Homo sapiens: one gene and its partner. The protein of the gene in region 1 purifies or fractionates together with the protein of each later gene. This does not show direct contact. Each region holds a gene or a part of one and is shown in the gene's direction. Other genes may lie near its edges.

Region 1 (3,500 bases):
AAAGATGTTGCCTAAGCTGATCTCAAACTCCTGAGCTCAAGCAGTCCACCCATCCTTGGCCTCCCAAAGTGCTGGGATTACAGGCAGTGAGCCACCATGCCTGGCTGCGCCATTTCTTTATAGACTACCCAGCCTCAGGTATTTTCTTTATAGCAACACGAAAACAGACTAAGACACTGTGGTATAATGATCATTTAATTTTGGAAATCTACTGGAAATAAAACTCTTTATAGTGAAATTGGCCCAAGAGTGAGTGAAGCTAAATTCTCTGTGATAACCCCAAGGCTCAGGCTTATGGCCCATTTTGTTAATACAGGACACACCAGCATAGACAACTGGGAAGACAAGGGAGGGGAAGAGGGTGAGACATAGTGTCTTTGAGGGAGGAGAGAAAGGGAAAGAAAAGGGGACAGGGAGAGAGAAAGGAGGCTGGAGGAGTACAAGTTCTGTTTGCTGCTAAGGTGTTAAGACAGACTGTCCTAAAATTCCTGTGCACATCCTTTTGCTTGTATTTCCACTGTTGGTCACAGATACTCTCAGAGTAATAAAAGTAAATATCTAGAATACAATGCATTGTTAGTCATGATTTCCATAAAGCTTCATACGGAAGAAAACAATTTCCTCTTCTATAATTTACTGAATGGTAGAGATGGTTCTATACAGGATGCTTTAGGAAACGTGCCATATGCCTGATCCTTAGCATTTTTGTTTAATAATGACCTAAATTTTGTTTTTGGTAAAACCATAACTAGCTATTATATTTTGGATTATTTAATGTTAAATGCTTACAGTGTGTCAGATTCTGGAGTACATACGTAAGTGGTGGCCACTGTCCTATAAGAATCTGTGATGAAATAGTAAAATAGCTAACATTTATAGAGTGCTTTCCACATGCCAGACACTGTGCTAAATTCTTGTTGTTGTTGTTGTTTGTTTTTGTTTTTGTTTTTGTTTTTTCCCAGACACAGTCTTGCTCTGTTGCCCGGGCTGGAGTGCAGTAGCGTGATCTCGGCTCACTGCAACCTCTGCCTCCCAGGTTTAAGTGATTCTCGTGCCTCAGCCTCCCAAGTAGCTGGGACTACAGGTGCGTGCCACCATGCCTGGCTAATTTTTGTATTTTTTGGTAGAGACGGAGTTTCATCATGTTGGCCAGGCTGGTCTTGAACTCCTGACCTCAGGTGATCCTCCTGCCTCGGCCTCCCAAAGTGCTAGGATTACAGTTGTGAGCCACCCCACCCAACCACTGTGCTAAATTCTTTATAGTCAGTACCTCATTCAGTCTGGACAACAACCTTAGGAAATAGGCATTCTTTTCTCTCTCTCTCTCTTTTTTTTTTTTTTTTAAAAGACTGAGTCTCACTCTGTCGCCCAGGCTGGAGCGCAGTGGCGCTATCTCTCCTCACTGCAATCTCCGCCTCCCGGGTTCAAGTGATTCTCCTGCCTCAGCCTCCTGAGTAGCTGGGATTACAGGCACACGCCACCACACCTGGCTACTTTTTGTATTTTTAGTAGAGATGGGGTTTCACCATGTTGATCACGCTTATCTAAAACTCCTGACCTTGTGATCCACCCACCTTGGCCTCCCAAAGTGCTGGGATTACAGGCGTGAGCCACCACGCCTGGCCTGTTTTCTCTTTTGTACACAGGAGGAAACTGAGTCTAGAGAATGAATACTTTACTTCAGTTCCTATAATAAGTAAGAAGCCTGGATTGAAGATCTGTCTGACATAATTCATCCATACCCATAACATCCATACCCATAACCACTATATTTGCTGTCTCCCTAGTAACATATGCTGTATCATACAGATTGTAAAATCTACCAGAATATAGATCCCAAATGGGTAACCTTATCGTCAAGTGAAATTATCTTCTTATTCCTCTATATGGGAAAGATATTAAAGGCGACACTATCGGGCAGGCCTTTATGACCTGACCTAGCTTGTTTCTTCTTTGGTCAGCACTAGTAATTTCTCTTGCATGCATTTCCTCATTCATTCATCACAGATTTAGATTTAGAAGATTATATATTTAATGATATTTTTGCTTTTGTCAATGAATATTTTTAAAGATAAGGTGTTACTGTATAAAGGCTTTTACTATGAAATATACCACTTTTAACTTTTTAAAAAACCTCTTTGCTCTTCTTACTGGGTTTTATCATTTCTTAGCATAAATAATTTGTCATTAGGTGAGTTTATAGTTTTTTAAAGGAATGTATGAATGCTTGTGAAACCATAGCTGGCAGGGCAGTGAGTACAGCAGTTAGAGCTGAATGCACAGTCAGAAGCTGAGATTCCATTCCTGGCCTGTCACTTATGACAGCCGCAGGCATCAGTGTTCTCGTCTGTCTTGAAAAGGGTTAAATGAGATGAATGATTTCTAACTACCACCCTTGGGGCCTGAAATTGTTTTTGAGTAAAAAAACTAAGTTTATCTGTTAAAAAAAAATTAATCCTAAATGTCATAGAACAAGAGGACGAGTACACACCACATGTATAGTCAGCCCTCCATGTGTGTGGGTTCCACATCTGTGGATTAAACCATCATCAAATTGAAAATACAGTGTTCCAAAAAAAATAAAAACCAAAAATTGTGGTTGCATGTACGTGTTTTTTGTTCTCGCTATTGTTCCCTAAACAATACAGCATAACAACCATTTACATGGAATTTGCATCGTACTGAGTATTATAACTAACCAGGAGGTGACTTAAAGTGTACGGGAGAATGTGCGTATGTTATCTGTACGTACTACACGATTTTATGTAAGGGGCTTGAGCATCCTGGGAGTCTTGGAACCAATCCCACACAGATACTGAGGGATAACTATACCACATGAGGAGCGATTAAGTAATTAGAAAATCAGCCACCAGGAAAGGGAGAAAATCAATTAGTTTATACAGTTCCCTTTCCAGAAAAGCTACTTTTTTTTTTTTTTTTTTTGAGACAGAGTTTCCCTGTTGTTGCCCAGGCTGGAGGGCAATGGTGTGATCTCGGCTCACCGCAGCCAGCGCCTCCCAGGTTCAAGCGATTCACCTGCCTCAGCTTCCCGAATAGCTGGGATTACAGGCATGTGCCACCATGTCCCTCTAATTTTTTTTTGTATTTTTAGTAGAGACGGAGTTTCACCATGTTGGTCAGGCTGGTCTCGGGCTCCCGACCTCAGGTGATCTGCCCGCCTCGGCCTCCCAAAGTGCTAGGATTACAGGCCACTGTGCCTGGCCGAAAGCTACAATTTTTAAGAAGCATTTTGAAATCTTAATGTCAATTAATGGACTCCCAATTATTATCTACATGGACTTTTAAGGACCCAGGGGTTCCTGTTTGAAATTACTGTACTAATCTCTAGATTATTACTGTAGTATGGATGATACTGCCAGTTCCCAAATATAGTCATTGAGATCTTAGAATAATTTTTTTCTACTTAAAATTCTCTAATAACTTCCTTTGTATTTAGAATAAGATTCAAACTTTTAGGTATTTGTTTATAACAAATAAAT
Region 2 (3,500 bases), on another chromosome or scaffold:
CCCATCCCCTAGGTATTAAGCCCAGCATCCATTAGCTCTTCATCCTGATGCTGTCCCTCCCCAATGCCCCCATCCCCAACAGACCCCAGTGTGTGTTATTCCCCCCTTGTATCCATGGAATAATTTAAGAGGTCATAACAGATGGAGCATCAGCCTCCTCATCTGTAACTTGGAAATAATACTCTACCTTTCAAAACTGTTGTTATGATAGAGTGAAATGCTTATGTCAAGTATATAGCAAATACCCTAACTTGTAGTAAGGGGTCAGTGTATGGAATCTATAATGTGGCCAGACAGTCCAAGGACTGGGATACCAGACTAGAAAAGCAATTTGGAGCCAGATTTTGAGAACCTTGAACGCCATTCCAAAGAATGTGGACCTTCAGCTTGATAAAAACAATTTGCCAAAGTTAATAATTATTCCAAAAAGAAATTAGAGCTGGTGCTATTTTACATTACCTTTCAAAATTCATTGTAAGTGAGATGGAGTTGGTGGAAGCTGTTGTAACTGGTTTAAAGGAATTTTATATTTGATGTGCTAAAAGGAAAGATGGTATTTTTAAGTTTGATGCCTTTTATTTTTTCTTCCACAGTAATTAGTGAATGCCAAAGGCAGCAACTGGAGGCTGTGAGCTACTCCTCTCGATATGCTCTGGGCCTCTTTTATGAAGCTGGTACGAAGATTGATGTCCCTTGGGCTGGGCAGTACATCACCAGTAATCCCTGCATACGCTTCGTCTCCATTGATAATAAGAAGCGCAATATAGGTCAGTACCCCTATTATTTCCCTTAAATACAGCAACAATGGTGGGTGTAGATCATGAAAAATGCTGTTTAATTGAGTGTTGCCATTCTGAACAGAGCAAGCATTTAACTCCAAGCCACAGGGGATAAAATTTAATGTCACATTTGGCCAGTAATAAAATACACAGTGAAACCAGCAAAGTTTTTCAGAATTTCATTCACCACATGGTTTATATTACTGAGTTCATGAAAATAGTGTCAGAAGGTTTAAGATTTCAAAATGGCCCAAGTTCTATTGCTTTAATATGGATGCATCTATATGCACATGTATCTCTCATTTGTTTCTTGGTGAAGTTTGTTTTTGTTTGTTTGGTTTGGGTATTTTTTTTTAATTTGATAAGTGCTGCTCTTCCACTCCCTCGGCTAGAAATTAAAGGAGAATTTTACTATGTTATGAAAATCCTTCATTTCAATATAATTTTATTGTTTATTTACATTTTATCTGGGGAAAAATGGTAAATTTACTTTATAAACAATGTAACGGGTAAAATGTTTTATGAGAGCTTCACTAGAATGTGGTGAATCTACACTCCACCCTTTTTGTTGAAGATAGTTATAAAAATTAGATTTGAATTGTAAGAAAAACATAACTGATTCCTTTTAGGCAAAAAGGTGAAGAAAGTGTATTCTCATTTGTAGGACTGCAGTGATCCCTGAGAATGCTGCTTTTTGTGGAATAACCGTTAAGGATGTAAAATGACTAAAACTCTTGAATTGTCCTGTCAATCTGTTACAGTGTTTTATGGGACAGTAATGGCTTCACCAAGCCATTAGTTAGAAGTCTGGCTTGATAAAATCACCAACTAATGTCTCTTGGCTCGCCAGACCTTCATAATGATAGAACTGGGCTGGAGTATGGTTTTTATATCAGAGCTCATGATCTTAGAAAAATGTTTCTTTTATAACTTAAAACTCCCTTAGGGCTGGACTGTTTATGTTAACATGATACCACATATATGTACAATCAGCAGTTCATAAAATGCCTTAGAACTTCAATGGACTATTTTTAACTCTACAACTGCTTTGTTCTGAGAAAAGGAGACTAACCCTTGATCTTTTCATGTTATATGCCATGAATTAGACATTATCCTGTGTATATTTCATCATAAGATATGATATCTGTCAGGGTGTATTAAGTTGTCTATAACAGAAAAAAAAATTTAAACTTGTTTAATAGCATAAAGACATTTGTTATATTATCTGCTATGGACTGAATTGTGTCTCCTCCACAGACATAGGTTGAAGCCCTAATCCCAATATGGTTGTATTTAGAGATAGGACTTTTAGGAGGTAATTAAGATTAAATGAGGTCCTAAAGGTAGCGCCCTAACCCTGTGGGGTTGATGACCTTAAAAGAAGAGCAAAAGAGAAAGCTCTCTCTTTCTATCCCGGCTTGCACACACCATGTGAGGACATAGTAAGAAGGCAGCTGTCTGCAAGCCAGGAAGATAGCCCCAGCTAAGCCAAATCTACCAGCACCTTGATCTTGGACTTCTCAGCCTCCAGAACTGTGAGAAATTTCTGTTGTTTAAGTCACCCAGTCTATGGTATTTTGTTATGGTAGCCTGAGTTGACTAATACATTATCTAAGGAGAAGATTGGAGAGACTTCAGGGTTCATTGATTCAGGAACTGAGCAATCTCTTCAAAGACCTAGGTTTTATCTTTCTCTGCTCTCTTCCACTCCCAATACTGACATCCTCAGAGGACTGGCAGCAAGATGGCAATAGCTGTTGGAGTCACACTGAACTTAACAACATGCTTAGGAATGAAATGAACTATCACTGGCTCTGTTCCTTTCTAAGAATCAAGGAAATCTTGGGAGGCCAAGGTGGGTGGATCAAGAGGTCAGGAGTTCAAGACCAGACTGGCCAATGTAATGAAACCCTATCTCTACTAAAAATACAAAAAACTAGCTGGGCATGGTGACAAGCGCCTGTAATTCCAGCTACTCGGGAGGCTGAGGCAGGAGAATCACTCTTGAACCCAGGAGGCAGAGGTTGCAGTGAGCAAAGATCGTGCCACTGCACACCAGCCTGGGTGACAGTGCAAGACTCCATCTCAAAAAATAATAACAATAAATAATAATACTAATCAAGGAAATCTTTACAGAAGCCCTTTAATAGACTTCTCCTCATGTGCCACAGGCCAGAATTGGATTACTTGAGTACTCCAAAACCAGGTGCTAGCAAAGAGGGTGGAAGCAATGTGATAAGCCTATACAAGTCCAGTTCTACTCCTGGAACTGGTACTAGGGTCATCTTTCCTTTAGTTATGAGGAGTGCTACCTGAATAAAATAGAGTTTTGTTAGGAAGAAGGAAGGAAGTACTAAATGCTGGATTAGCAATCAATAATGTCCATTATCTTCAAGTAGAGTCACATCTTATATGGGAGGTAAAGTTCTAAAGTTGTCACATAAAAAGAGTCATGTACATTCAAAATTACCTTCAAAGTTTCTTAAAACCACATGACATTTTAGAGAATGATGTAACATCTTTCAGTAAATTCAGTACAACTATTTTCCCAACATTCAATAGATTTCTGTTTCTTTGGTGAAGCCAGATTAAAAGTTGATTTGGATTTATAGGACCCAGTGATATTTTCTACTATGAAAGGCACACAGGAAGGAAAGAAATAGCAGAGTCATATCTCCTAACGGACTATACATCTGCTATAAAAATGGAGTGGGATGGTGG

The links. The genes of interacting proteins can lie anywhere in the genome.
Region 2: the proteins of DENND5B (region 1) and RNLS purify together in Homo sapiens (pull-down; one study listed by IntAct). This does not show direct contact.

What each region holds. Positions count from the first base shown.
Region 1 is NC_000012.12:31,581,137-31,584,636, reverse strand, and holds part of DENND5B (DENN domain-containing protein 5B), read left to right. Parts: intron 1-3,500. UniProt on the Homo sapiens protein: Guanine nucleotide exchange factor (GEF) which may activate RAB39A and/or RAB39B. Promotes the exchange of GDP to GTP, converting inactive GDP-bound Rab proteins into their active GTP-bound form.
Region 2 is NC_000010.11:88,359,819-88,363,318, reverse strand, and holds part of RNLS (renalase isoform 1 precursor), read left to right. Parts: intron 1-593; coding exon 594-767; intron 768-3,500. UniProt on the Homo sapiens protein: Catalyzes the oxidation of the less abundant 1,2-dihydro-beta-NAD(P) and 1,6-dihydro-beta-NAD(P) to form beta-NAD(P)(+). The enzyme hormone is secreted by the kidney, and circulates in blood and modulates cardiac function and systemic blood pressure.